Regions from separate parts of the Homo sapiens genome. Here regions 2 and 3 are each linked to region 1. Evidence: fine-mapped expression QTL. A gene starts in region 1. Each other region holds a variant in brackets. All regions are shown on one strand. Distances are from middle to middle.

Region 1 (10,398 bases):
TTCATAGAGACAGGGTTTCGCCCTGTTGCCCAGGCTGGTCTTGAACTCCTAGGCTCCTTCTTCTCAGCCTCCCAAAGGGCTGGGATTACAGGCATGAACCACCGTGCCCAGTTGATTTTTCTAAACCTTATCTTGCATTTCTTGAGTTGAATTTTTGTAAATTTCTGCCATCATACTTTTCATACACAAGCGTTCTTTTCTGTTCTCTGAAAGTGCCTTTTTAAAGCCTGATTTTCTTGTTCCATGGATACAATATCTTCTCTTATCTCACTGAGAACTGTAATTGTAGTTTTCTCCAAGTTTTCTTCCATTTCCTACCCAACCTCTCTTCTGTGTGTGTGTGTGTGTGTGTGTGTGTGTGTGTGTGTGTGTGTGTTTCTGTTGTTTGTTATAATCTCTCTTTCCTTAATGTGATGCTCATATTTAAGAGTGAGGTAGGCCGGGTGAGGTGGCTCACGCCTGTAATCCCAGCACTTTGGGATACCGAGGCAGGCGGATCACGAGGTCAGGACACTGAAACCAGCCTGGCCAACATGGGGAAACCCCGTCTCTACTAAAAAATACAAAAATTAGCCGGGTGTGGTGGTGGGCACCTGTAATCCCAGCTACTTGGGAGGGTGAGGCAGGAGAATTGATTGAACCCAGGAGACAGAGGTTGCAGTGAGCTGACATGGTGCCACTGCACTCCAGCCTGGGTGACAGAGTGAGATTCCATCTCAAAAAAAAAAAAAGAGTGAGGTACTAAGTAGCCAATTGGAAGTTGCTGCAAATGGGTTACTAAAGTGCACTGGACAATGTCTCTCAAATGTCTGTGAGTTTAGGTCTTTTTTTCCATGAGCATGCCAGTTTCTCTGGAATGGAATCCTTCAATTTCCTGTCTGTGGGATACAAACCTGATTGTCGGTGTCCTGGGAGCCCTGCAGGGTGAGGCGATTGGAGATGTTCAGTGTTCAACGAGTTGGCTTTCATTTAAACATTTATTTTCAGCACTCAGCCTCTTCCCTGTTCACTGCTTCACCTGGTTCCTCTGAGCCCAGCACTTCAAAGAAGAATCAGAATAAACTTCAGTTTTCCGTCTGGTTGAGAGAGAGATGCTCACCTGGTTGTGTGGGGTAGAGGACGCTATCTGGACTTCTAACTATTCCTTACCCAGACTTACAACAAATCTGTTTTCTGCTCCACCGCCTGTCCTCAGAGGTTCCCAGGGCTTCCATATTCCGAGGTTTTCCCGATTCTGAGGCTTGAATCAGCGTCCTTCTTGCTGGCATCCTAATTCACAGGACCAGATTTCAGTTTCTCAGCTCTGTTGAGTCCATTTCCAGCCATCTGTCCATTTTCCATAGTCCAAAATTTGCCTAACATCTGGACTTATGCTAATTCCTTTCAGGTACTCTTTGCTCTTTGTCTTGTAGGATTTATTTATGATTTTTTTATTGCTTTACTATCAGTCTGGAGAGGTTTGGGGAAGCAGAAATTAAATGAGTGTTCTTATGTGATCTGCCGTGTTTAACCATATCCTCAAATTTATTAGTCTTTTCATTTGTTAATTCTGTTTTTTATGTTATATACCCTATGATAAAAAAAATTCACCTTCAATTTTTTTCTAATCATTTCTGTTTGTTTTTTATATAACCTAGTTTATTATAGTGTGTAGTAGAAACTTTGAATCTAAATTTTCTGCTTCCACAAAATTGATTGTAACCCTGCCATTAATAGAGTGATCCACCCTTTTCTTCTTTATTTGTAATACTTCCTCTAAAATAATTCATATATGCTGGGGTCTATTTCTAGGCTTTCTGCTTTATTCTATTGATCTATTTGTTTAGTCTTGTGTGAATAGCACTTATCTTAATTAGAATTGTTCTATAAAAAAACCTCTTTGCCTATTTTTAGGTCTTTACTTTTAAAATATTTACTATTGTTTTGTCAAGTTCTACAAAATACGTCATTTGGAGATTTTAATTAGAATAATGAATGCGGCCGGGCACTGTGGCTCTCGCCTGGAATCCCAGCACTTTGGGAGGCCGAGGCGGGTGGATCAAGAGGTCAGGAGATCGAGACCATCCTGGCTAACATGGTGAAACCCTGTCTCTACTAAAAATACAAAAAATTAGCCGGGCGTGGTGGCGAGCACCTGTAGTCCCAGCTACTCGGGAGGCTGAGGCAGTAGAATAGCTTGAACCCGGGAAGCGGAGCTTGCAGTGAGCTGAGATCGTGCCACTGCACTCCAGTCTGGGCAACAGAGCGAGACTCCGTCTCAAAAAAAAAAAAAAGAAAAGAATAATGAATGCATGGATTACTTTGAGGAGAATATATATCTTTACAACTTTCAGGTTTTTCATTCATGAAGATGACATATTTCACCATTTAGTCAGGTTTTTCATGCCCTTAACTCAAGTTTTATAACTTTCTTGCACATATTTTGTTACATTTATTCCCAGGTAATGAACACTTTTTGTTATTATGAATAGCATCTTTTTCCACTACATTTAAAAATTAGAGATGGCTGATTACAGAAACTCTAGGTTTTTGCATCTTGAACTTAATTCCAACAATCTTGCTAAGCTCTTCTATTAGTTCCAATATATTTATAGATCCTCTCAAATTCTCTACACAGATAATTGTATAGCAAATAAAGACCTTTATTTCTCTTTCTAATCCCAGTGGCTATTTTTTCTATTTATTTGTCTTGGTTAGGTATCTAGCACATTTTTTTAGTTGTAGAAGAGATAGTAGTGGCTTTGTCTTTTCATTGATTATAATGGGAATGCTCTTAACATTTTATCATTAAGCATGACGTTTGCTATATATTTCTGGTAAATGCCTCTCATTATGTTTAAAAAGATTCTATTTCTAGTTTTCCAAGAGTTTTTTTTCCAAAGTGATTACTAAGTTTACCAAGTATCATTCACCTATTGAGACGATCTTTCTCTTTTCTTTTTTCTACTTCTCTTATTTATTTTATTTTTAAACTGCTAATGTTGTACATTATATCAGTGGATCTTCAGATCTTAAACCATCTCTGGATTGGTCTTATCTCTTTTTTCCACACTGTTGGATTCAATTACTAATTTTTTCATCTGCATTCATAAGTGCACTTAATCCAAATTCTCTATTGTGTTTGGTACTTTTGTGTCCAATTTTGATATCAAGATTCTACCAGCCTGCTTTTATTGTTTGATAAACCTGGGTGTTGGCAAAGGTTTTATCTGACTAAAAGAATCTGGCAAAGGGTGTTCTGCTGCCTTTTAAAACTTTCAAATCTTCTTTTCTATTGAATAAAGTAGGCATTTTAAGGTGGAAGGAGGTATGTTTTTCATGACTAAATGAAGTAACTAATTTTGAATTAAAAAAATGGCCTATTTTTACTTTTCCCAAGTTGACATGCAAGCAAAATATAATTTCTTGCTACTGATCTACATGATCGCAAACACTCAGTTGTAACTAAAAAAATATAAAGAATCGTCCAGATATTTCCAAATGTCTTTTTAGATTTATTATGGTTCGATTAAGTTGATCTAGCCTATGATAGACAAGGAGTCCTTTATCTAGGATGATCCAATTGGGAAATATATTTCACAGAAATTTCCTATATAAATCTCGTGTATTTTTAGGGCTGTTTACAAATGGCCTCTGGAAAAAGTAAATACTATGAAAGTAAAATTTCCCATGGCAGAGATTCAGCAACATGTATCTTTTTTTTTCCCCCTTCCTTTCTTTTTTAAATTCTTGATTGTTTAAAAAAAGTAAAAGGACAAAGAAAGAAGAATTTTTCAATATCATGGTACACACTACATGAAATTTGTTAAATTATTCTTCAACTATATAGTTCCTCCATGATAAGTGTATTTCAAATACATAAAATAGGTTGTGTGGTCACTCATCTACTATACCCTATATATGAGATATCCAGAATTTATCTATGGAAACATACTATTTTTTTTATCAAAAGACATAACCCAAAAATATTTAGCCATTTATCTTCTAAAAACCAGGCAAAATGCAGGTCCCTGCCGTGTTTCCTGTTGATAATATTTTCCCCATTTGTAGCACAACTTTTCTTTCCTCTGGAAAGCTGGTATTTATTTTATTCATAGATTGCAAAATTATACCCTGATGCTGTTCCACCAAAGGGCATTATTTATACAAGCAGGGAGAGTGTGGTTTAGGATATAAGCAGCAGCGGTAATGGAAAATAGCACTTTCAAACAGGCCTCACTGAGTTATGGAGAATACCACCTGGAGATCATGCACCCGGAACGTCTCTGGACACAGGTCATATCTTTGCACAGACATCACCAATTGCAGCTGTTTTCTGAACTCCTGATGTCTGCCCTACAATATGTTCAAGCCCAGCAGTTTACCAGACTATGTAGTATTATTCTATCTTTCCTTCCTGTCAGATATGGGATGTCCCCATCAGCAAAACTGGCCGTGTTCCGAAAATTTATTTCTAAATCATTTATCTGGGATCAGAAGACATTTTCCCACAGGAACAATTTTATAAACAGTGGTGTTCCACAAATGCCTGCTTGTGCCACAGTGTACCTGAAATGCAACATTGACTGTATGATTCCCACCAACCATTATTTATTCTTTTCTCTGGGAAAGTGCATTCCTCTTGGGATGCCTGAGGCTCATCTCTCCCTCTGCCTGGGAGCCTCAGCTATAGTTTTTTGGGCTGTGCAGCAGTAGCAGTCAGGAAGAGGGGAGGGAAGCAACCTTCCCAAAAAAGAGATGAGTGTAGAGAGTTGATATGGATGCCTCTGGGTAACTTGTTAATGCTGGAAGGCTGAAGAAGGAAACCAACAGTGCGAACTGGCTACTTCCCAACTGTTCTAAAAGAGGCACAAAGGGCAGGGACATTTTCGTAAACAGAGATCATTTCTAAGTCACATCTTCATAAACAGGGAAAGGCATATAGTAAAACCTCCCATTTTTAAAGACCAGTATCTGGACTTGTAATTAGCCAGGAAAAATATTGTGAAACTTCTTGGTCAGTGATGAAACAGTCTCAAACATATAACAATGAGACATAGATCTTGCACCTATCCCCAGGCCTGACAAATAGTAAGTGCTCCAAAAAAAGGGGATTTCAATTTTAATTAAGTACTAATTGAGTGAATTCTGTATTGAAAAGGACAAGACTATGTGTGGGCCAGTTACCTTAATTCTCATTAGCATCTACTAATTCTGACCCTCTTATAGCACACATCCTAACCATGAAGAGTTGGTCGGAGCACTTTCAAGACGTCACCTGAACATTATGTCACCTCTGCGGGATATATGCATCTGTCTACCCCAGCCCAAAGCAGGTGGTGGGTCTCTTCATACCCTCTCTGATGTGCATCAATTTCTAGGAATTTCTAGTACTATCTCCACATCACCAAATCTGAGGAAACAAAAGAGATAAGGAGAGGAAAGTGAAGCCAGTGAGGATATCCAAGCCTGTAGGACCTTAGGTTTATTCTGGCCAGTATTACCTGCTAAAAAAGACCTACGCTTTTGGTTTCCCTTTGGTCACTTATTTTTATAACACATGCAGACGTATTTTGGGGAGGTGTGCCTCTTTCAGGCTAGAATTTAGTCTGCTCAGCAGACCCGGGTCCTGTCTCCTTCAGGTTTTAGAATTGCATAACAATTTAAACTCATTTTGTATGTGCAAGTACTTTGAAAAGAAATATACTATTAAGACTCCCTCTGGTAAGAAGCCTTCCCCACCCCCACGCCCAATAAACTGATCTGTTAACTTTTTGTTTCAGAGACTGTGCTTTCTTTTTATTGCTGCATTTGTGTTCTACAAGACAGCCTCTTTCTCCAAGATTAACATTTCTTATGATTGTTCCTGACAATGGATTCACTTCCAGAGGCCCTGCTAAGGATAACCAAAAAAGGGCATGGAGCAGGCTGGTTTTGGCAGCGTGCACGCAGTTTCAGAGCTTTTTAGGTCTTGGGTTTTCTGATGAGTGATTTCCTGAGCATGCCTAGGGAATGACAGGCATCTCCACAGGCAGGCTGCATCCACCTTGGCTGGGGTGTCGTCATTGGCTGCCTATTAGAAAAACGACAGGACAATGCATACCACCGCCTCCCGACTGTAAACATAGGGGATATGTGTTCACTTAGCATGGACTTCTGGGAGGGGCCAAGGAAGGGCGGTCTGGAGTTTTATTGAATAGAGCAGTGTGTATTCGGCTGCCTGCCTGCCCGCCTGCTTGCTCTCTGGCTGTGCTCCTGCTTAAAGAAATCAGTCCTTCCTTTCCGACTTAGTCCTCGGGAAGAAGTTTCAGACTACAAGGTAAGGCACAGAAGGCTTTCTTTTTTATCTTCTAGAGAGAATCTGGGGACTTTCTCCGGCTTTCAGTCAACATTCCTGGCTAAGGTAGCTGGAGATGCAAGAATGTTCAAGGCAATAAACCATGCAAACTCCCGAGCCTGACTGGGCTTCACTGCCATACGGATATTCCCGGAAGGCAAACAGGATGAGATTTCCAGTTTTGTTTTTAGAATTGGGACAAGAAGAGTGACCATATAGAGACTTACATTTAGGGAACACTGGCAACTTTGATTAGGATAGCCTTTTGTTTAGGACAGCCATATGAGATTATACCTGATATCCAAAGGCCAGTGTTAGCAAGCCTACTGCACCAGACTGCTCACACAGTCTCTTCTGCATCTTTTATTGCCAAAGATTTGAAGAGGTTTTGCTTTAAAAACAAAATCAACAATCCTTTAGGTTGATGAGAAGCCAAAAGGGAATGATTTTTTTAACCAAAGGCTTTTGCGTTATAGTCTGCTGCCAGTATTTAAAACTAGACTTCCAGAGTTGCAAGGAAATACGGTCAGAGATGGAGAGATCACTAGCACCTAGCACTGGTTGGGTTAATGTCACTGATGGGATATTTGCTAAGACAGAAGATGCCTAGGCTGGTCTGTTTCCTATAAAACCTAATAACAAGAGAATGCATGCGCTAGTGGGTGTGTTTTTTTAGAAAGCACATTTAACGTCCTACCAAACTATTTTTTAAGAAATCTTTTTTTCTGTTTGAAAGTGTGCCTGAGTGTGTCTAGAGAATCTAAAGAGATGTCGATTGGCAATGTGTTTCAGAAAGGAAGGAGGCAGGCTTTTATATCTAGATAGACATATTTGGGTGTCTGAAACAGTAGTACAAGGCAGCTAGTTGGTAGTAGCCTGGAATTCCTTTTAGAAAGAGCTGATGGCAAGGGGTGGGGGAATTTTAGTGCTGTGGCAATACATGGTCAAAAAAAGTGGATGAGAACAAAGTGCTTGATATTTATAGATGCCTTCTATTAACAGGACTATGCAGATGGACTTGTAAACTGAAAATCCTTCTAATGTGTTTGTCAAAACCAGACATATACAGCTAGAACCTGAGTGAAGACTAGATGCTATATGGCAAGCAGGGTAAATCTGATGATTTTTTAGTAGTGCTGGCTATTAAAGACTACCAGCTGCAAATGACTGATTCAACTGGATTTTATTCCATGCAATGCGGTAGTTTGGGGTTGAGATTCATTAAATAAAGTTTTCTCTTTGTATTTAGAAGTTTGGGGATAATTTTCTTGGGAATGCCTATTTCTCCTTCTAGAAGTGATATATGAGAACAGAATTCCTTGTGAATTTCCTTCCCTGGAACAGTTCTGAGTAAGTGTGAGAGAAAAGCTGCAGGCAAAAGCTATAGTTTAATTACTGTCCTTCCCTCGAAGAGATCAAGTTCCAAACTATTTTCACAGTGTTTTTAATGTCAATCAAAATATGGAGAGCAATTTTTCTTTTAACTGTTCTCTAAACCATGAAGGGAATGCAGTTTGGAAGGAGATCTATAATCTTGGGATTTGAGGATAAATTCCATTTTGAAACCAACATCTCCGAATCCCTGAAAGTTCAAACTGTGCTATGACCACTCTCTCCAGATCCCCCATCCCCCTTCTCTTGGGCTCCCCACCCCCAACAACCATAAAAACACTCATTTTTTTCCAAGTAACACTTTAGGTGTTCTGCTGTTATAGGTAGAGATAGAGTGAGAGGATTTGAGTTTATGCTGAATTTTAGGCAGTTCTTTGTGCTACTTCCTTCCTGTTGAATGTTACCTAGAACACATTTCCCCACATAGTGAGGCCAAAGGAGCACAATGAAAACAGTAACTTTCATTTCAGAAATATAATCACAAAATTCCAGAACAAAAAGTCACTAAGAGTTGATCCTAGGACACACAAGGAATGTATGTACAATGGATTGATCCATAAGTAAAGTGCAGGGTTGTTTCAAGTATTCGAAGCAAATAGAAGGTGTAATTTAAATCATTCCAGTCAAAAGATTGCCTTAAGTAAATACACAATTCTTATATTAAAGTTAGGAGAAGGAGAACCAGGCTCAAACTGCAGTTTAAAGGATTTTAAATGAGATACATGAAAGCATTTCCTGACAGTAAGGCAACTGCCTTATTATGAGAATCATTAACAATTCTAATTGGCTCCTGTGACTGGCCTGAGAATCTCCTTGTCTTAGGTAGATAGAATAAGTTGATCTTATGGCCAGCCATGTAAAGGTCCAGAATCTAGCCCAGGTATTCTCTGTTCTGATAAATAAAATGCACCTCAGCAGGCATTTTTGTAGAAACACATGTAATTGTCTCCATTTGCCATTTTCTTGATAGCATGATTACCAGTTAGTCATTCCTTAGCAAGACGCAAAAGTGATTCAGAGATGGGCATGAAAAGAGATTTGCTAGTTCCCCATTTGCCTGTAGTCTATCACATGTCTCAGAAATGTGGTCGGGGGACAGGAAAAATGCTGATAGAGTGGTATGCAAATAGCATGGTAGGACTAAGGAGGAGGTTAGAAAGATGCTGCCAAAGAATTTTCAGACTTCAAAAGGGCGTTTTCTGCGTTAAGTTCTCTTAGGGCCTGAGAAGATACCATTAGCTCCTTACTGAAAGTCCTTCATCTGTCAGGCTAATCCAAGTTTGCTATTGGAGAGATGCCCATAAGTCCTGAGTAGATGGGTAGTTTAAAGAGAAACTTTTGGCACAGGCTTAACTTATGAGAACCACTACAACATCTCAGTTCTAGTATTGGTTCCTCTGCTTAAGTAACCCTGACCTTTTTGAGGAAATCATCAGCTTTTGACTTCATCTGTTGAGTGAAGAACGGACATTGGTAATGCTTCTCCGATGTCCCACAGTGGTTAAGACGTCCAAATGAGATGAAGCTGTTTGCTCCCTCTTCCCTGCAGATTCTATACCCTGAACTGCCTATCATTTGAGTCCTCTGGACATTATGCTCATCTTGGCTGGTATCCTCCACTTCTTACCTAGTATCCCTAATGATCTCTTCCTTTCTCGTATTTAAGGACCCTTGAGTGATATCTTCTCGCTCCTGGTTATTTCTAGAGCCCTGAGCCGTGTCCAGTGAATACTGGTCTATCCCAATGTTGTCTGAATTTTTACTTTGATGATCACAGACTAAGAGGACACAAATATAAGGAAGTGGAATAAGATGGGCCATCAGTGGTACAAGGCACCAGGAAATCCAAAGATCCACTTGAGCATAAGACCAGTGAGAAAGTGCTGACAACAGAAAGCCCTTAAGTAATTGAGGCAGCTTCTCTGCCTCCAGCCAAAAGCATGGAATGAACCCCGGAACGTCATGCCTGGGCCTTGTAGGAAGGGCAAGGAAGGCAGGAACACCTGGCTGTGGTTCCTGTTGGTATTGAAACCAGACTGCTCCACGGAGCTCGCCTCTCACCTCTTTGCTTCTGTCTTTAGTGCTCCCAGCTGTAACCGACCCTAGTTGCATCCCTAACTTCCTTACCCCCAGGCCTCCACCTGTAACCTCTTCCCCAGCTCCCCCATCCCTGTACCGGATAGGGAGCTTTCTTGATCCAACATTGACAATTTGCAGGGGCCAGCTCTAAGATGAGGCCCAGAGTACAGCAGAACACTCTAGCACAGATAGGTTCTAGCTAGGGAAAGCCACTTGCACAGACAGAGGAGATGTCAGAGCATGTTTTGTGGTAAGGACCCACTCTGCTTCTCACCCCAAACTCATAATTGGCAGGCTGTGGGTAAGGCTATGGGAGCGGGGTCGGGGGGAAACTATGACCTGGGCTGTGAGGGAGGGGTGATGAGGTTGTTCCCTGTGTTGTTCTTCCCTGTGTTGTTGCTATGGAAACCTTTGAGAATCTGATAAAAACTGTGAACCCTTAAGGTCCCTTTGTAAACCCACGCTTCATGATTGACAGGTAAGAGACCTTTGAGCTGGGGCATGTAAGATGGGGAGTGGGGTCAGATCTGGATTCCCATAGAAGACAAGGGTGGATGGGATCAGAACATGAGTGGAGGTGTCCATGATCTGGAAGGAAGAAAAGAGGGGGT
Region 2 (10,398 bases), 110 kb after region 1:
AGAACCAGAATTTTGTAGATGTGCACCAGCCACCATTCATTCAAGAAATTGTTAGAGCCCTGCTATTTCCAAGCACCGTTTATTGTTTTAAAGATATGTTTCAAGTTGGAGGGCAGAAAGGAGTTAGAGGCATGATCCTTTTCAGATAGAAACTTTTCAGGAAAAGAAAATAGTCCAGTTGTTTAAAAAACCCTGGATTTTAAAAAGAGCTTAGAGAGTCGGCCTAAGTAATTGGTGCAAGACAGTTTAAACAGAAACAGGGAGTCTCACAGCAAGTTGGCTGGAGGAGCTGACTCATACATTGCAACATAATTATTTCCCAAATAACATGCAAACAAGAGTGGGCTCAAGCTTTCTGGTCTCTCTCTCCCTAACAAGATAAATTAGAAAGAAATAAAGTCAAATCCAGGAAGACTTCATAGAGGTAAGGCCTGGAACTGGTTCTTAAAGAACCACTAGAATTCAGAGAAGCAAAAGGAGTAAGAGTGGGCATAGGACTTACAAAGCAATTCATTTGGAGAAGAAAAAAGAAAAAGCAAAAACCCTGGATATAGCACAAAACTGAATGAATGATCTCTCTAAGAGATGCTATTATCAATGTGAAAATGATGTTAGGATGTGTTAACAGGAACGTGGCAGGAAGCACTGGGACTTCAGCCAGGCCTTGGTCAGCTTTTATTATGTCCAATTTTGGTTTCCCGTTTGAAGAGTTGTTATAGTCAGGCTGATATTAAAAGGATGGAAAATAGGCATTGGCGTCTAGCCTAGAAAAGACGAGACTAAAGGATGACTTAATACCTGTGGCCCTCCTAGAGATAAGTAGGTTTCTATTTCAGCAACAGGAAATCTAGTTCGATAACAGGATAAATTGAGCGTGAGAGTGATTAAACACTGGGACCTTGATCACAGGATGTCACCTACTGAAGTATAGTTCTTTAGCTCTACTGCTTTCAGAGTACTGTTCACTTTCTGTCTTATAATAGAATTTTTGTATACATGTCTTATCTCCCTTTAGGACTGCCCTTCTTATCTTTGCATCCCCCACAGCACTTAGTGCAATGACTTGCTTGTAGTAAACATTCCAATAGTGCTACGCGAAGCAAAGCAAAAAGGAATGTGCTGGGACAAAATAAAACTACATGCTCACCATTATAAGGGCAATAAGACAGTGTCACAACCCAAGCCCCTATTACAGGCCTAGAGACAGATGAGGCAAAGAATAATTAAGAAACGTGTATCAGCACAGGCCATGAAGACGCTGGTGAAGAACCACTGGAAGACTAGGATGAGGAGTAAACTGTGATTTTTCCACAGCAGCTCCTGCATTCAAGATCACAGGACATGACAGAGCAATATAGTTTAAGTGAACACGTTCAACGCCATGGCAGGGGCAGGGGATGGGAGATGCCGTCGTCTATGAGGGGAAAACTATGAGAGGCCAACAGAAAGGAGGAAAGAGATGCTGCCTTTGAATATGTAAACTCCTTTACCTACATTCCTGTTCACCTTGGGGTGGGGGAACAGCTGTCTAGGCAAGATTTTTTGCCTAGTTCTAAGAGTACAGAGCCTATGAATTTCTTCATAAGAAAATTTATCTCCAACAGCCTTTTCAAACGTCCCCTTTGTACTACTCGAACTGTTGCCTCCCTAGTGGTAGATTTCCCTTAGGTTTATGTGTTTCCATAGTAAGTGAATGGCTCTGTGCATGTTATGTGTGTGCATGTGTGCGTATGCATGCATGCGTGTATATGTGTGTGCCTGTGTGTACATGCATGTCTGTATGTGTGTGCATGTGTGCGTATGCATGCATGTGTGTGTATGTGTATGTGCATGTGTGCATATGCATGCATGCGTATATGTGTTTGCCTGTGTGTGCATGTGTGTCTCTATGTGCCTGCGTGTGTATGTGTGTGCATGTGTATGTGTGCGCATGTGTATGTGTGTGCATGTGTGCATATGCATGCATTCGTGTATGTGTGTGTGCCTGTGTGTGCATGTGTGTCTGTATGTGTGTGTATGTGTGTGCATGTGTGTCATAAGCGCATTAGGGCATATGCACAGCACTTCCCACATACCTCTCTTCCCTAGGGAATTGTTTCAAGGTAGAAGCTGTTCTTAAACAACTGCTGCAGACTCTAAAGTCTGGAACAGATCTTGTGGTCCGGTCTCCCACCTCCATGAAGTAAAGTTATTTTTAAAAAATCATATTTTCTTAATAAAGGACCACCCTGTGGTGGGAGCTGTTCCTTTCTATTACAGTCTGACCTCCCTCAAACCTTCCCAGCCCAGAATCTCTTTGATGAAAAATTAAACAATAAAGTGTCCAGAAACAAAGGATACTATGAGTAATCTCAGAATGGCCCAGACTTTCATTTTTCCTAGTAAGAGTCCTGAAGCATCATCAAATTCATGATACCTATTATCTTGCTGAAGGATGACTGGCCCACTTGTTCATGGTGCCAATGAATAGTCATTAGTTCACTTCTCAGAGACACCAGTTCTGGCAGCTGGACACTGGGTACCATTCTCTGCTATGCAGTGAAAGCACACAGGCCTGTAGGTCTCTGCAGGACCAGAACACTGTGCACAAATAACCTTTAGATTGTTATTTCTCAATCCTCTTACCTTGCCTCTCCAGCCCCAGGCACCAGGTCTCAGAGGACTCTTGGAAGCACTTGCCTAGCCCAGCCCTGCTCTCAGCTCATGATTCACTTGTTATCTCTATGCGTCTTCCCGCGTTGCCTGTCTTTCATTGGCCTTTGTGTTCTTCCTCTTCCCAGAGAGTGTCTGAACCAGGTCCAAGACTCACTTCTCTCTTCACTCTTCCCATGTCAGTACCCTACCAGGTAGCATGAGCTATAACACCACTGGGTTTTACTATCACAAACTGAAGACAGACAGCTGCTTCCCAAATGCATGCCCCTAATAACAAAGGAGGGTGCGCGCTGTTTCCCTTTCCCTCTTTTGGCAATTAGGGAAATAGCCTGGTGGACATCCTGTGTACAGCTGGCAATTAGCACACTTTCTGTACATGGATTCTGCACATGAGTGGAAGACTACTAAATTCTTGCTCTCCTCCATGGAGAATACTGGCCAGAAAGAACCACAATTTTTTTTTCTAGGTTTTTCCATTTTATGAACCTATTCTGAATATGCCAAAACCATACCTGTCACCTCAGAATTGGCGTGGGGGGCTGGGGAGGAGGGAATCAGGAGGTGATAGCTTTCTCGCATGGCTGCGACAAATAACTAGAAACTTGGTGGCTTTAAACGACACAACTTATTCTGTACAGTTCTATAGGTTAGATGTCTGGCACAGGTCTCACTGGGCTAACATCAAGGTGTCAGCAGGGCTGTATTCCTTCCTGGAGGCTCCAGGGGAGAATCCATTTCCTTGCCTTTTCCAGCTTCTAGAGGAAGTCACATTCCCAGGCTCTTGGACCCCCTCTCCATCTTCAAAGCCATCACCAGTCTGTCTGCCCACCCTGACAGATAAGCTCCTCTAACCACAGCTGGAAAGGGGTCTCTGATTTTAAAGAGCCATGTGATTCATTCCAGCACACCTGGATAATCCAGGATGCTCTCCCCATCTCTATGCCTTTAATTTCATCATATCGACAAGGTCCCTTTTGCCACGCAAATTAACATGTTCTCAGGTTCTGGAGATTTGCGGGAAACGTTATTCCACCTACCATAGAAAACCACCGACTTTTGTAAGTAATTGAAGGGAAAAAATTAATTGGGCAAAATTCGGTAGAAAGAGAAGCAGCAGAATGCCTCGATACATGTTTCTGTCTCAGTTCTAGAGCGAGAAACTCAGGACAAGTCAGTGTATATTTAAGTCCTCTTGTGTGAAGGCAGATGTATCTCTACTTTTATGGGTGTCTTATGTGCTACTTTCATCAATATATGTTCGGTGATCATATGTGTAATCAGAGATATTTAAATGCATATATACATAATGATATATAGAGATAATTAACTTTAAGTTTATTAAACTGTATTTACTCTATAAACTATGACTTCATTTTTTGTTTTGTTTTGTTTTTTGTTTTTTGAGATGGAGTCTCACTCTGTCGCTCAGGTTGGAGTGCAGTGGCGCCATCTCAGCTCACTGCAACCTCCGCCTCCTGGGTTCAAGCAATTCTCCTGCCGCAGCCTCCCAAGTAGCTGGGACTACAGGCACCTGCCACCAAGCCCGGGTAATTTTTGTATTTTTAGTAGAGACGGGGTTTCACCATGTTGGCCAGGCTGGTCTCAAACTCCTGACCTTGATCCACCTGCCTCAGCCTCCCCGAGTGCTGGGATTACAGGCATGAGCCACCTCGCCTGGCCTATAAACTACGACTCTGATGACCGCATAGTATTTAAGCAAGAAAACAACCAAAATGTTCTAGCTAAAGTGGAGACCACTTAACCTAACCCAATTAAACTTTAAGTTGAACACAAGAGTAGTAGATGCAGTTCAGCTCCATGACATTGGGTGAGTTGTCTAAATGCTCTGTGCTTTGGTGTCCTTGTCTGCGTGTGACATGAAGCCGCAGATCTCAAAGATCTCTTTCATTCCGTGAAAGCGCTCTCAATGTGTGAAGTTGACTGCTTCTCCTGCTGTTTACCAAGAGAATAATCTTAACTCTACATTGTGGAGATCGGATTTGTTCTCACTTGACAGAAAGCCAGTCCCACGAGCAGCTTGGTACCCAAATACCAGTCTGTTTAGTGCTCATTAGAGATGAAGAACCATATTCATAAGTCAAGCTGAGACGGAGTGTCATCTCCAGACAGAATCAACACCACCCCCTCCTCAGGAACTGGGATTTGGCTGCTTTCCAAGCCGCTGCTGACCAGGTTCCATTGCCCAGCTTGGCTGATGAGATCACTGGCAGAGTACCATGGGTGCAGACGGGGCCTGCTGTTTCAACATGTTCTCAGGAGGGCTCTTGCCCACATTTCTTGGAGAGGTGTGAGCACCAAACATGCTGAACCATCCAGCCCATCACTGAGCAGGGCCATCTCTCTTCATCCCTTTTCATTTGGTTTGCATTTTTATGTCATGCTCCTTCCCTGGATAAAAGGGATAAGAGGAGTTTCTCAGATTTGATTTCTCAGTGGGAACTGTTTGCTTTGGAAGCCACCTACACCAATGCTAATTGAGAACAGAGCTCAGAATGGGAGCCTGAGAACTGCACCCGGATGAACTTTTTGGTGGGCTGATTTCTGTTGATCTTGTCAGAATTAGGTTGTATATGCATGTAATACCATGATCAACTATTTTCCAAAAGGCTGAGCAAATGCATCAGTGTCTTTTTCCTTTGACCAGTTACTTACCTTGGAAAAATTATTTGTAGTTAAGCATATAAAGTCTTCATCAGGAAAACTACTGGAGATCCTGGCCCTGACTACCCAGCAATAACATTTCTGGAACTCCCGAAGCAATCAGTGCTCTCTGATCGCTAAACATGATGGGCTTCTATTAGAGAGATTACAGTAAAAAATAACAATCAGCTCTCTGATGATCCTGTGAGGAGGGAACGGGTTGGGAGGAGTAGATTTGGCTGAGGACAAGCCCAGACTTTCGTCACAGGGACAGACCAACGTGTTAACACAAAGGGAGAACACGGGAGCATCCTGCACCGTGCATTTCAGCCACAGATCACATGGCCCCTCCGCGGGCCCAGCCCACGCCCTGACCGCCCGGCCTGGCCAGGTCTCCGTATCTCTCTGCCCCGCCGCCCCTTCCCAACTGCGGACATGCTGGGTGGATCCGGATCGCATGGAAGACGCAGCCTGGCCGCGCTCTCCCAGTGAGTCCTCATTTCGTCTCTTTGGTTTTTTCCTTTCTTTTTTTTTTTTATAAAAAACAAACGAATTGTTGTAAAAAAAAAAAAAAAAAAAAAAATGTGGGAGTGGGAGGGGAGAGGAGGAGACACCAGGCAGGAAAGGAATGCAGTGAGTGTGTGAGTTTCAGACCTGTCTGAAACTTTCTGGTTTCCACTTCATGGTTGCTCTGATTCGCTGGCTTTTCTCGTTTCCATTTTAATGGTGGTTTGTGGACCATTTGCCAGGAGTTTATACCTAGGCACGGGTTTCTCCGTTTCAAATACCAATCCATAAAGCATTGTGTTTCTAAAGGTCTGCTGTTAATTTAGACCTTAGCCCTCCGTTCAGAATGATCCATTTGCAGGGCTCAGAGATTTTGGCTAAAGCACACATTGCCCA[A/G]TCCTTAGAGTAAACAGCCAAAGCCCTCAATATACTGACCATCTGACTAAGACAGAACAAGACCCAGAGCATATGCTATTGATCAGGGAATTGTTCAGATAACGGACTCCAAGGGTTTAGGATCATGAAATCCTGGAATGTTAAAGCCAGAAGGGAGGCCTTTAGACTCTTTGGTGCAATGCTGTCTTTCAATAGGCAGGGAAACAGAAACCAGAGGGGCAACTCAACTTACCCCAAAGCAGACAACAGTCGGTAGCAAAGCCATGTCTTTGTACTCTCATGCAAAGGGCCGTTTTCACACTGGTGTTTATGAGGTTTGAAAAACTTACTGGGTCTTGGGAAAAGGTACCGCACAAGAATTAGAACACCAAATGGCCTTTCAGTAAATCTTTTCCATTTTTGAGAGTTTTGGCACCGATTCAGCATGACAATTGTTGTTCCAGTTGTTCCAGCGTTTGTGCAACAGTTAATCAAATAAACAGAGAAACTCATCAGGGTCCTAAAAACAAGACCCATGTCCATTACATTAGCAGATCTCTTGGAGAGCTAGTTTCCGTAAGTGTGGTTGGTTATTCACGTGGGAGAGCTCAAAGGGACTTTAGACGTTATCTGTATAGTCCAGTGCTTATCAAACTTTTTAAAAAATCAAATTTAATCTTAAGGGGAACGCTATTGTATAAAGGAGATGTTCTGGTTAAAGAAAAGGTTTGGGATCTAGAGCTCCTCATCCTCGCTCTACTCTGCAGTCATAGCCCACTGCACAATTCTACCCCTCTCCTCATCCCTCTTCTACCCCACCTCCCCACCCTCTTCATCAAAACTTCCTTGGAATCCTAGGTCTCCATGGAATAGTTCAGAAACCACTGATCTCATTGAAAGCCTTCATTTCAGATGAGGAAACTGAGGCACAGGAAGGGCTTGCCCAGGGTCACACAGCTGATCAGCAATAGAGCGTGGGATGCTAGGAAAAGAGCCCAGTCTGGCTGGCTGTCTCTCTCTCAACTCATGGTCCTGAGGCTTGTTTCCACTCCTTCATGCCTATGATTCTATCAGTCTCCTTTCTCTGTGTCTCTCTTCTCTGTTTACTCTGCCATTTCCTGGATTTCAACAGCTATTACCTCTCACCGGGATGGTTGTCATTGCCTGCCATCTGGTCCTCGGCCTCTGTCTCTCTCCCCTTTCTGATCCAGCCCCCTACAGCCCCCACCTATGAAGATAAAGTCCATTCTCCTTACTACAGCATTCAAATTTCTCCACAACATGCCTTCACTATTTCTTCCCATTCTGACTTCCGCCAGGGAGAATGTTAAAAACATTGTGGGGAAATAAATAAATGATGGGCATAATTTTACCAGATTCTGCAGAAATGACAAAAGAAATGCACACAGGGATGTCGAGATTTGTAAAAACTATAGGAGTACCTGATCCGGTGAAATAAGATCACTCACAGCTCCCCAAACTCAGCATATACAAGCCACCACTGTTTCTTGACTCATTCTATTCCCTACACAGGGAATACCCTCACCCTCCTGTTTCTGACCTCCTTTCTGTTCTGCAAGGCCCTGATCAAATGCTCCCTTCCTCTGTAAACCTTCCTCATTCCTCACTTCTCTCACTCTAATAACCTTTGCCCATCCTTCTATTACTAGCTTTGTACCGTCAATCGAGGAAAATGACGAGGCAAGTCTCAATCATTTTAGGAGGTTTACTTGCCAAAGTTAAGGATGTGCCTGGGAGATAGGTCTATGCCTTTATCTGAAGATGATTTTGAGGGCTCCAGATTTAAAGGGGAAAGGGTGGGGATATTGAGAAGTACACAATTTTCATCTAAGTGAATCTGTGTTTTGTACATAAGATCACATAAACAAAGGGGGCAGAGGAAAAATGCGGGGAATCTGCATTTTACGTATGATAACAGACAAAATGGGGTAGGGCGACACTCAGATATGCATTTGTGTCTGGTGGGCCAGGGTGACTGCACCTATAAAGATAAGCTGTCCATTTGCATTGCCATGGTGAAGTTTTAACAGCTCTCTAGGAATGTCCTTGTGGACAAAATATGGGGGAGGCTTGTGTAGCTTTTCACCTTGTAGCCATCTTATTTAGGAACTAAAAGGGGAAGGCTTTGAGTGACCCAGTTCCCGGCTTGACTTTTCCGTTTGTCTAAATGCGTTCGGGGTACCAAAATTTAATTTCCTTTCAATAAAGTTATTGTTGAACATAGCTATCTTCCCTCCCAATAAATGGCAATTCACTTGAGGGCAGGAATGATTTTGAATCTTTGAAGCTTCAGCATCCAGAACAGTGCTGATGCTCCAGAAATATTCTTTAAGTTTCCTATTATTGAGTAAATCAAACTCAATTCCCCTTAGTTTACCTTTTTCATTTGAACCGTTTGAACACACAAAGCCTTCACTCCTTTTGCTTTGCTAGACGTACTAGGTTAAATGCTAAAACAGGTGCTCAACAAAATGAATTCTAAGTTCCTTTGCATTTCCATCAGATAATTTATCTCTGTTTCATCACCTGTAGAGCAAGATTGGCTGTGATTTTTTAATGAGACATGTTAAAATTCCTGAATGCCAAGACCTACACAAGGGCCATGTTATTTTCAGGAGCAGTCGTGAATGGTTGTTCAGTTATTTAGATTTCAAGGCATGTTTAATTTGTTCCTACCAAGATCACTGAGAGATTCTGTCACTTGCGGTTTAATATTTTCACTGGTACTTTTATCATTTTCCCAAAGCCTAAGGAAGTTTACTTGCAACAAGATTTGGGGTTTCCTGTAAATATTTGTTTTAGTCCATAAAGGGTTATTTTTCTTATAGAGAAGTGTGCTTTTATATATCTTGCAGCTGAAAGTTAAAAGTTTTTTGTGTGTGTTACATTTTGTAACAAACATGGAAGGGTATGTAAATTGTAAAATCATGGAGTCAAGGAAACGTAGGAAATTATTTAGTTCATCCCACTGTTTTCTGAGGGAACTGAATCCAAAACAGTGCTGGGAAATAAATAAATAAATAAATAAATAAATAAATAAATAAATAAATAATTGGCACAATTTTTAAAGATTCTGCAGAAATGACAAAGGAAATAAACATAAGAATATTGAGATTTGTCAAAAGTTTAGGAATGCCTGGCTTATTCAATGTTATCAGGAAATGTAGCATTATAATTATCCAGGATGCTAAATTTGGTTTTATATATGTATGTGTGTGTGTGTGTGTGTGTGTGTGTGTGTGTGTGTGTGTGTGTATGTATTTAGTGGAAACTCTTTGCCTTCATTAAAGCAGATATTACAACACATTTAAAACATTTTCAAATTGCTAGGAGCTGTCCTTATGAACATAGTTTTTTAATCATGCTGTAAAACAGTGATACCTCAGGGGATAAGACTCCCATCCAAAAATGGGTCCAGTTATTATGTGATGTCTTCCATCACATAATATTGATGCTTTTAAATCTCTTCTAATACCTATTAATGCATCTGCCTGTCATGGTCCCGCTCCCTGTTCTGCTGTAGCCAAGAGTAACAGGACACCCATTTGTTAGAATTACGTTCAAAGTAAAAATCAACAATCTGGTGAGAGAGGCCTTCTCTCCTACAAAGTAATGGGCACTTACATTTTGTGACTATTGGTTTGTAGGCCAAAGTGTTAAATATAGTGAACTTCCAGTTTCTCTTCAAAGAATCAGTATGTCAGTATGTTCAGCTTTCTTATTTTTTAATTCTTGATTTCAAAGTTTAACTTCCTGGTTCTCTCTGCCCACTTGCTTCTAGTTTCAGTAAACAACTTTCCCACCAGTCCTATTCAGTAGGTTCACATCTGTTCCCCTGGTCACCTGCTCTGTCCTGTCTCATCCTGGTCACGTGCTTTGACCTGAATCACCCCTGGTCACCTGCTCTGACCTAAGTCACCTTTGGTTACCTGTTTCTAACCATCCTTCCCGCCAAACTACTCACCCTGCCACTCTGGCTCATATCCCTGCCCTCTTTAAAATAGCCAGTCGGAACTGGCTTAGACTGTGTGGTCCAACCCTAGCCAATAGGGAACAACACAGCAGTAGGGGCCGCCTGCATCAGGAATAAGAACTCCTGCCCCTCCCCTGTCCAGGTGTGCTCTCGCCATTGTTCCATCTTCGAGGGGCACCCTTTCTGCAGAAAGTAAATTTTGCCTT
Region 3 (10,398 bases), 82 kb after region 1:
ATTCGTTTACAAGAGGTGCAATCCCACAATAGTTTCTTGCTTTGTATACTTGAAAACATTCCCAAAGAAACAAAGTTGGATGCAGAAAAGATATTGGGAGAAAAGAAAAATAATACTCCAAATTCTGAACAATTCTACTTTAACATGTTGATCTGTCTGCCAGCTGGCCACAGGGTTGACTACTTGTAATATATACTTTTGGTAGGCCACATGTAGTTCTTGGAACTGTTTATATTCGGCTGCAGAAACTTAATTATTCTAAAATTGGCAGAGTGATCTTTGGTTACTTAATACAAAATTGCTTAGTCATCTTTAAACATAGTGTGGACAGCTTTTGTTTAAGTGTGAAAAATTAGGAATTGCAAATGTACTCCAAAGAGATTTTAGGTCAGGGAGAAAAACAAGAAAGTATCATTCTTTCAAGATATTTAGCCCGGTGGTTGCCACATGTTTTAATTTGACAAGCTAGGTAACTGTCGAGTTGAAGTCCTTGATTACAAGTATTTTTCCATTTTCTTTGTAGATATTGTCAGAAGTAGAAAGCTGTTGCTGCTGCTTCTTAGATGGTATTCTAATCCTACACTCTGCAAAGTATAGGTTTTTCAGCAAGAGTGTGAGGAACTCTAACATCAGCTGCTGGAACAGCTTTCTTGTTCTACGAAGCGAACAAGGATGCCATTTCAAGCTGGTTGTCACAAAGATCCTCCTTTTGCCTCTTTTGGTTTGAATCCTCGAACTGTTGCCTTCCACGTATAGTACAGAGCTATAGTGCTTTAGCGAGGAAACAGGCAGGCAGAGTGAGCTTCTGCATTTTTTAAAGTCTAAAGTGGCACCGGAAGTTTCTAGTTTTTCCAGGAATGCCCATGGCAACCTCACACTTTTCCTGTGATCTGGGCTGGGGCTCCTAAGAGAGATGGTGAGAAAAGATAAAAGTCCTGTAGCCAATGGGTAGCCACGCGAGGCCTGGGAAGGGTAGGTTCCCAAGCAAACCTCCAGAACGGTGCCTTATGTTTCTAATTACTGAGCATGGTTAGAGAGCAAAATCAGGCAACAGTTTTTTTAGACTGATGGAAACATTTAATTGGCTCTGAATGTCAGTGTTTTCTAATTATGATAGAGGGGTAGCAAGAAGTTTCCAAAGGCTGCGGAAATTTGAAGTGTATCAGCTGAATTCTGATTCTCTTCTTTTCTTATTCATCCTGTCTTCTTTTTCTTTCAACATCCAAGAACAAACCTATTCCCTCAGTTAAATGCCTAATACTCCTCTTCCTGAAATCGAAATGTCTCTCTAAGACCAAGTTCTTTTCCACTAGAGAAAAACAACCACAACTACAAATCAGAATATAAAATAGAGTTCCATAGTAAACCACCACCATTCCCAAGGTTACTAAGAGCTCAGCCAGAGAAACAGCCTTTTGATAACGTCTTAGCCAAGTTCATTTGTTTAACAACTAAGTTCAACAAATAAACACTGCCCTGGCATCTGTTCCAACTCAACAAGTGTGAGCCTAATGCGGAGTATAAGAAAAACAGTCAGTTAAGAACTTTGAGGGATCACGAAAGACAGTAATCATTTCTAAGAGATAACAACCTTTTACAGAAGACAAATATGTACTTGGTAATTAAAATACAAGCTATAGACTAAGTGCTCCAATAGAAATACAACATGGGTATCAGTACAAACTCAGGCTATTGAGTCAGTTGTTCAAAGATCCTATGGTTTTGCGCTATTCTTTTTTTTTTTTTTTTTTTTTTTTTTTGGAGACAGAGTCTCGCTCTGTCACCCAGGCTGGAGTGCAGTGGCGCGATCTCGGCTCACTGCAAGCTCCGCCTCCCGGGTTCACGCCATTCTCCTGCCTCAGCCTCTCCGAGTAGCTGGGACTACAGATGCCCGCCACCACGCCCGGCTAATTTTTTGTATTTTTAGTAGAGACGGGGTTTCACCGTGGTCTTGATCTCCCGGCCTCGTGATCCGCCCGCCTCGGCCTCCCAAAGTGCTGGGATTACAAGCGTGAGCCACCGCGCCCGGCCAGTTTTGTGCTATTCTTAAGCAGGCCCCAACTGTGAGCCATTCCCTACCTGAGGAAAAGTCCAGGTATCCCCAAACTAATAAATGAGTGAAACTGCTATCTAAATGACTCATTACTATCTAAATTACTATCTAAATATAAAGAAAGAGGAAGCAATCTAAGTACTTTTCAACTTATTATTTATCTGTAAATATATATGCTTAAATTATATGTCTGTTACATCCAAGGGACATAGCAGATAACATCCTTTAGTTGGGTTTCAAACCTTTCCACCTTGGATTATAAACTTCTAGAAGGTAGTTTTTAACCTGCTTTGCAGTTCCAGAATACAGTAAACACACTTGATGATCATGATGAATAGAAGTCAAATAATTCACTAGAGAATAATTAGTCCCTGATCAGTAACAGCTTGTCCTTCACATACAAAAATACTGCTATTAACAAAGCACCTCTAGAACACACCTTTGAATTGTTTTCAGCACTATAAATGGATTTGCATCCTGCCATCTAAGCTATCCTACTTTATATTAGCAAGATAGCTGGCCAAGGCTCTGTATCACTAAACTGGAAGTGTTAGTTGAACAAACCAGTCACAAAAAGCAGGCACATGAGTTGCTGACTTTTTTTTTTTTTTAGCTGAGTAGTTCAGCAAGTCCAGAAGGCCATGCACAAGTTAAACTACTTTTATGTAAAATATGGTGATCTCTGCAGCATGTTTACAACTGGGAAAGGCCCATGGCTTCTGAACTTTCATTCCATGTGAACCACTCTTGGGCCTTGTTACTTAACTTGAAGTGTGATCTTTCTTCAGCCAGTGTCTCAGCTTCTTTTGTATTTGCCAAGCATTTCACTTTCTCAGTTGCAAGTGCCCAGTCACAGCTAGATTGCCCCCATCCAAAAAGCCTCCATAGGAAAATGGAGAGAGTACCAATGAGGGAATTATGAGAGCACAGCCATGCTTTGAGATGCTGACCCATACAACACCCCACAACTTACCACATCTTTTCTATGAGATTGTAAGGTCTTTGAAGACAGAAACCATATCTAACATACCTTCATGTCTCTGAAGTGCATAGCATTACTTCACTCAGTACAATCATTTCATATTAGGAGTTGAAAGATCTCTTTTTTTTTTGAGACAGTCTTGTTATGTCACCAGGCTGGAGTGCGGTGGCATGATCTCGGCTCACTGCAACCTCCACCTCCCAGGTTCAAGCGATTCTCCTGCCTCAGCCCCTTGAGTAGCTGGGACTACAGGTGTGCGCCACCACACCCAGCTAATTTTTGTAATTTTAGTAGAGACAGGGTTTCACCATGTTGGCCAGGATGGTCTCAATCCCCTGACCTTGTGATCCACCTGCCTCGGCCTCCCAAAGTGCTGGGATCACAGGTGTGAGCCACCACGCCCAGCCAGGAGTTGGAAGATCTTATAGTAGAGCTGTCCAGTAGAACTTTCTGCAGTGATGAAAACATTCTCTGCACCGTCTTATATGGGGGCCACTAAACACATAATGGCTACTGAGCTCTTGAAATGGGACTGGTGAAGCTGAGGAACTGAATTTTAAATTTTATTTATTTTCAATTTAAATGACCTCGTGGCTGGTGGCTACCATATTGGACAGCATAGCCTTAGAATCTTAAAAAATATATTTTCGCCATAACCCTAAATAGATGGCCACTTCTTCTCCCTGGCTTTTTCAGGGATAGGGGTCTACCCTTTCCATGCACCCCCATTTTTGGGTAGTTGCGCTGGAGCCAGCCCTCCCTGTATCTGAATTATGTGTGATAATATTGTGAATGCCTCTGTTAGTCAGGCATACATTTAGAAAGCATCTTTACATATTTGTTGCAAGTCTACGCATTTTTTCTCACATGGACACAAGGTAGTGGAGAATTTCCACCTTGCCTTAGGGTTTACGCTTGTGTCATTTGTTCTTCTCTAGTGGCCAATAGAGCAGCATGCCTATTCTGATTTAGCATTAAACTCTGTCTTTCAGCCTAATTCTCCTTGAGTTCATCAAGGAAAAGTATTTAAATGCTTGAAAAGAAAACAGAAGAAGTCGTGTCCCAAATTTTCACTTCTCTTCATTCTTCTAAGAAACTTTCAAGTTGGTTTAGAAATTAGTCTAAATGCCAATCCTGGTTTTCCACTGATTTGTAGTGGTTAAGGAGCTAATGTCAAAGCTTTATATGTCTCAGTCTCCTTTCTTCAAATGGGGTTGAATTGATTCTTCTTACTTGGGAGGATCAAATAATGATAACCATAAAGTTTTGAAAAATATAAAGTGCTCCAAATTAAGGTGGTGATATTTGTGATAACACTTGAAGATGCAACCTAAAGTCCCTAAACATGGTGTCTTCCTAAGTGTTGAAGTTAGTATATACAAAAACCATCATTTCACAAATCTAAACTACTCAAACTGTCTGCTACTCAGAAGGTGAAAGAAAGGGCATAAAGACATTGGCTTTAATAATGTTAAATCTGCCAGGTCTTCTGTTTGCTAGTGGAGAAGTACAAATAGAGAAATGGTAATGCTAAGAGATTGTGCGGGGAAGGCAAGGGAAAAACAGGTCATAACCTGTTAACCTGCCCTTAGTATGTTGGATTCCATTGATTAGAGAAAAGAAACACCTTGAGAA[G/A]ACAAAGTGCCTCAGGTTGATTGTATTCACTCTTATTTCTATGCTGCTGTTCTTGACAGACCTGCCTTGGTAAATGCATGTATTTTTTTAAAGTAGCACAGATTTTTGGAACAAGATGGTGAAGGTTGAGCTAAAGTTAAGTGCAAACTGTACATTATAATCCATTTGTTTATTTGGTTTTTCAATCCCAAATGAACCATTGAGCTCAGAAAAGAGCAAAGTGGGTTGACAAATTGATTTTTTTTGAAAAGAACAAAAGTTCATTTGGTACAGTCGGAAAGAAAGTGCTGCCAGATTTACTGTGTAACTACTGCAAATGTGGGTTTATATAATTTTTGAGATTCATACATAGTCAATTACCAAGGTCTTTGATTCACTTTGTAAACACTGATCAGTCAATAAAGTACAGAGAGATGAATTGGCTTGAGTTACATTTTCCATACTCAGAATGGTAAAATCTAGAATAGAAATCCAGTGGCTCAAATTGGCTACAATTTCTGAGTGCCTACTCTGTCTCAATTGTGGAAAAATTTTTTTAAAGACTATATCTTTTCATAAGTGGCCTTAAGAACAAAAGCATATGGAAAGTAAAATACTAATACAAATATTTAAAGACTAGCTAAAGAGAACAATTGATGAGCTGTAGCTGACAGTGTGTTATTGATTATCAACATGAATTATAGATATTCAAGGAGGGAATTGTCGCTTTTAAGCTAGGGTTCTCAGGAAAGGGTATCATGAGGGAAGTAAAATTTGAGCATGAAATTCATGATTGAATAAAAATATGGATAGTGAAGATGTAGATTAAAAAGAATGAGTAAAAATGTAGAGGTAGAAAGTTGTAAGACATATTTGAGAGGTGATAAAATATTTTTATGTAGGATGCTGTGGTATGATCAGCTTGAAAGGAAGGTTAATGGTTTCTAGATCAAAAAATTAAATGAGAACAGACTTAGATACTCAACACATTTATGTCTGGGAAGGAGGAAGAAGCATGGATATGTCATGTGTGATACCTCCAGCTTTGCTGGCTCAAGCAGGTATACAGCCATAGTATTATTATGTGGCGTAAGATGAAACTTTGAATATTATCTCTCCAACCAGCTCACTTTATAGAGAAACAAAGCTCATAGAGCTTCAGTCTCAGTCTCCTAGGTCTCATTCCAGGTCACTATTTGCCAAGGGTTTGTGAAGGAAAACAGTTAAAGGGTCAAGGTAAGCGATGATCATTGCAGATCAGAGGTAGGAAATCTGCTGGAGTATGTTGTACCCAGAAATCACCCAATACCTGTAGGATGAAGAGAAACATCACTGAGTTGCAGCGATGGCCCAACTGAAATGAATGCAAATCTTTAGGATATACACGACATGCTCCCTTTCTCCCACAAAGCACTGAATCTCAAGAACACAAAACAGAAAGCAGGTGATAGGTGTGATTCAAGGTTGAAGATGGGTGTGACAAGCCTGGTGGAACTTTAAAGAAGCAAGAAAGTCTAAACTATCAATTCCAGGAAGGCAAAGACCTTTTCTGTCTTGTTCACTGTTATACCCCAGTGTCGAGAACAGTACCTGGCACATAGTAGCTGTGCGGTAAATATTTATTGTATATTGATTGTATAAATGTTTTTGTGAGGCCTCACTGAAGTAGCTGAATCATGAAATTTACAGTGGGTGCAAAATGATGGCTAGTCAGAGAGGACCTGTCTAATAATGGTTTTGAGTGTTCCAAGACTAGAGTTCCTTGCGAGAGCAGAGAAATGATGATGTTGTGAATGAGGATACAGTGGGTTAGAGGAGGAAGATGTGTAATGAAGAAGGTACAATATAAGAGAAGAAACTAAGATATTGAAGAAAAGTATGCAATGATGCTGTCGAGGATACAGCCATCCTGAGTTACGAATTTTACAAAGCACTAACAATAAATTAACAGAGATGAAATAAGCATTTGGAAGGCTAATTCAATTGAGATCTTTTGTGACTTGATAATTCTATGATTTAAACCAAACAGGTTGTAAACCGAAGGCATAGGTAATTTTTAGGATTATTTCTTACCTAAGGTTATATGATCCAATGAATCAATGTGGCAATCACTGATAATAGTCCTCTCAGAACTTCTTTGGGGCACTCTTGTTTGTTCCCTGAAATGGGAAACAAATCCTAGAGAGAAATAGTGGATTAGTCCTATTATAGTGGTTAAGTGTATGCACTTTGAAATTCCATAAAATGGGGATTATACTAGCTACCTCACAGATCTGTTACCCAGATAAAGTAAAATTACTTATATTTTAATGGCCCAGCAGAGCTATCAGCCATGAAAAGACTTGAAGGAAACTTAAATGTGTGTTGTTAAGTGGAATAAGCCAATCAGAAAAGGCTACAGACATACTGTATGATTCCAACTATATGATATTCTGGAAAACTCAAAGCTGTAGAGACATAAAAACATCAGTGATTGCCAGGGTTTTGGAGTAAGGAGAGGGAAGGGATAAATGAGTGGAGCAGGTGGGGTTTTTAGGGCAGTGAAGCTATTCTGTATGATGCTACTATGGTGAATACATGACATTCGGTATTTGGTGAAACCTATGAAACTGTGCAACAAAGAGTGAACCTTAATGTAAACTATGAACTTTAGTTAATCATAATGCATGAATACTGGTTTGTCAATTGGAACAAATGTACCACACTACTGCAAGATGTTCCTAAGTTTCCTAGGGCTGCCATAACAAAGTACCACACACTAGTTGGTCTATAATAACAGTAATTTCTTGTCCCACTGTTACGGAGAGTTGAAGTTTGAAATGGAGGTGTCAGCATGGCCAGGCTCCCTCTGAAGGCACTGGGGAAGGGTTTGTCCCATTTCTCTTTCTCAGCTTTCTGGTGGCCTTAGGTCTTCCTTGTCTCCATTTTCTCATGGCATCTCACCATGTCTTCACATTATCTCCCCTCTGTGTTTGTCTGTCTCTGTGCCAAATTTCCCCTTTTCATAAGGACACCATCATATTGGATAAGGGACCACCCTAATCACCTCATCTTGACTACATCTGCAAAGACTCTATCTCCAAATGCAGGAGAAAATGTGGGCAGGAGTTGGGGAGGGGGGAATATATGGAAACTCTGTACTCTCTATTCGCTTTTTTTCTGCTCTAAGAAATAAGTCTATTCATTAAAAATGTTAAAGGCTTAAAAAACAGCCTGCCACATAGTACATATTCAATAAATGTTAGTTCCTTTTGGATGCTGCATTAACTTATTCAGTGCCCCTGACACAACAGATTTTATTCTTCTTGCATTCCAAGATCAATACTGGCACTGCCCAAAAAGTAGATAAGACTTAGCTTCTTCCACATGGCCTTGTCCCTAAGTGTTGAGTGCTGGGTTAGCCACCTGCTCACAAACATCTCCTGCCTTGACTGCATTTACACACGTGCTCATGCACAGGTGACACAGGTGAGCATACCCACACACACCTAAAATGGCTTATCTGCCACCAACACTGACCCAAACAAAAGCAGAAACTTACTAGTTCCCCTTATAAAGGCATCACAGGAAATATCTATAGTGAGGGCTACATGCCCATAGAGGGAAAAAGAAAAACAGCAAAAAAGAATATAAAACATAATACATTTCTTGGTTGAAAGATGCACATCAGCTATTGAACTAAATTTTTAAAGGAAACGAGCCATAAATTGATTTTAATAAATATAAATATACTTTCATTTCCGACACAGGGTGGGAGACAGAGAAGAAAAAAAAGTCACAAAGAAAGAGAAAATTTTTTTTAATGTCAGAAGAAATACCACTCAATATTCTGCCTTTGAAAAGAGGCAGAGAAAAAAAAGCAAGGAGGAAGGAAAGGAAAGAGAGGAAAGTCCCGGAAGCCCTGGCGTGGTGGTAAGATGCAGGACACGCCTCTCGTCACATCATGCCAATCCCCTGGGCCGCAGGCTCGTGGCTTTGTTCAAAAAGAAGGGCAGGCTGGGTGCGGTGGCTCATGCCTGTAATCCCAGCACTTTGGGAGGCCGAGGGGAGGATCACCTGAGGTCAGGAGTTAGAGACCAGCCTGGCCAACACGGTGAAACCCCGTCTCTACTAAAAATAAAAATTAGCCGGGTGTGGCGGTATACACCTGTAATCCCAGGTACTCAGGAGGCTGAAGCAGGAGAATTTCTCGAACCTGGGAGGCAAAGGCTGCAGTGAGCCGAGATCGCGCCATTGCACTCCAGCCTGGGTGACAAGAGTGAAACTCCATCTCAAAAAAAAAAAAAAGGAAGGGCAGTGTGTTTGGTGATTTGAAATCTTTTTTCTTTCCTTTTTTTTTTTTGAGATGGAGTCTCGCTCTGTCGCTCAGACTGGAGTGAAGCGGCTCAATCTCAGCTCACTGCAACCTCCACCTCACGAGTTCAAGTGATTCTCCTGCCTCAGCCTCCTGAGTAGCTAGGATTATAGGCACCTGCCATCACACCCAGCTAATTTTTTGTGTGTTTAGTAAAGATGGGGTTTCACCGTGTTGGCCAGGCTGGTCTCGAACTCCTGACCTCAAGTGATCCACCCACCTTGGCCTCCCAAAGTGCTGGGATTACAGGCATGAGCCACTGCATCTGGCCTGAAACCTTTAACACTGACTTATTTCTTAATCATGGCAGTTTAGGCATGCCCTGTTTTAAAAGAAAATCCTATCTATGAGAATCCATATTGAAAACACAGACATATCCATAGGTAATGACATCTGCCTCTGTTAAGGTTTTTGTTTTTCCCCTCTTTACAAAAGAAGTCACCTCAGTAAATTTTTCAATAGCATGACCACAGTCCCTCCTCCAGCACAAAAATTTAGATTTTCATAAAACTCTCCGAGAACGCATCATCTGTCACTAACATCAATACTTAGCTCTTTCACACTACTCTATTTGTGACACCCAGAGCCTCACGACTGATGGAATCACCCTGTCTTGACTTTTCATCCCTTCATTGGTTGAGAGTTTGTTTCCTAACCAATGTTGCTGAAAAGAATTCAGCACTGAGTAGGGGTAGGGCAGGAAATGAGGGATTACTGCCTGGGGACTGGGGACGTAGAAGAGAAAAAGAAAATCACTTACCATTCTACCTAGACATGTCTCCTCTTACAAAGGAAAGATGCTAGAGAAGGGCTGAAAAGCTCTGTGATATAAGGGTGCAGGGATGAAGGAGGATCTCCAGCCCCATCCTGGGTTGATACCGAGAGCCATTTTCATAAACACATACAGCTTCTCTCCCCCACACAAGACACACACACCACCGAGAGTCATACCACATGGTACACAGATGTGGTTTTGTGCTTTCCTCTAAGCTACACCCACTCGTGTGCACAAAGCCTCACCTAGAAAAGCACTGGTCTGTAGGAAATGGCACACGCTCTCTCTCTCCCTCTGGGTGCCCCCACATGTATACTCAGCAGCATTCAAATGGCAGGTAGTTTTTCTATGGCTGGGAAAGAAAAAGTGCTCAAGTAAGCAAGAGAAGGTGAGGAGTGGGAGAAGAGAATGGGTAGGAGAAAAAGAATTTGCGTGGGTTAAGAGCCAGTGAGGATGGTCAGCCAAACTGACCTCACGATGTTAGTTTCACTTCCCTTTTAAGTATTCCAAGACACTGCCCGGCTCTGCAGACCATGTGCATCTCCAGCCTGCTTGGAGATATTCATTTCACTGCTCATTAGCACCTCTACCAGAGGTATAGGCTGAGAACCACTGTTGCT

Direction of the effects. Alleles are on the strand shown, and positions count from the first base shown. SD is a standard deviation of normalised expression in the study named. Not every link is listed here.
For the expression in subcutaneous fat of the gene that starts at base 6,183 in region 1, A is the high allele of the variant in region 2 and G is the other (moderate effect, 0.57 SD a copy in TwinsUK).

The links. PIP is the estimated chance that this variant, and not a neighbour inherited with it, causes the effect.
Region 2: its variant is fine-mapped to the expression of CALD1 in subcutaneous fat (TwinsUK, PIP 0.95).
Region 3: its variant is fine-mapped to the expression of CALD1 in nasal epithelium (TOPMed, PIP above 0.99).

The regions. Positions count from the first base shown.
Region 1 is chr7:134,773,452-134,783,849 of GRCh38, forward strand. CALD1 (caldesmon 1) reads left to right here and starts at 6,183. Exons shown (of 15, transcript NM_033138.4): 1 at 6,183-6,298. The region is part of intron 1 of LOC124901750 (a long non-coding RNA gene); the gene reads right to left.
Region 2 is chr7:134,885,870-134,896,267 of GRCh38, forward strand. The region is part of intron 3 of CALD1 (caldesmon 1); the gene reads left to right. Among named protein-coding and RNA genes, the nearest start is that of AGBL3, 95 kb to the right of the region's middle. The variant A/G (reference allele first, on the strand shown) is at 6,220.
Region 3 is chr7:134,855,426-134,865,823 of GRCh38, forward strand. All of the region lies in intron 2 of CALD1 (caldesmon 1), which reads left to right. Among named protein-coding and RNA genes, the nearest start is that of CALD1, 81 kb to the left of the region's middle. The variant G/A (reference allele first, on the strand shown) is at 4,671.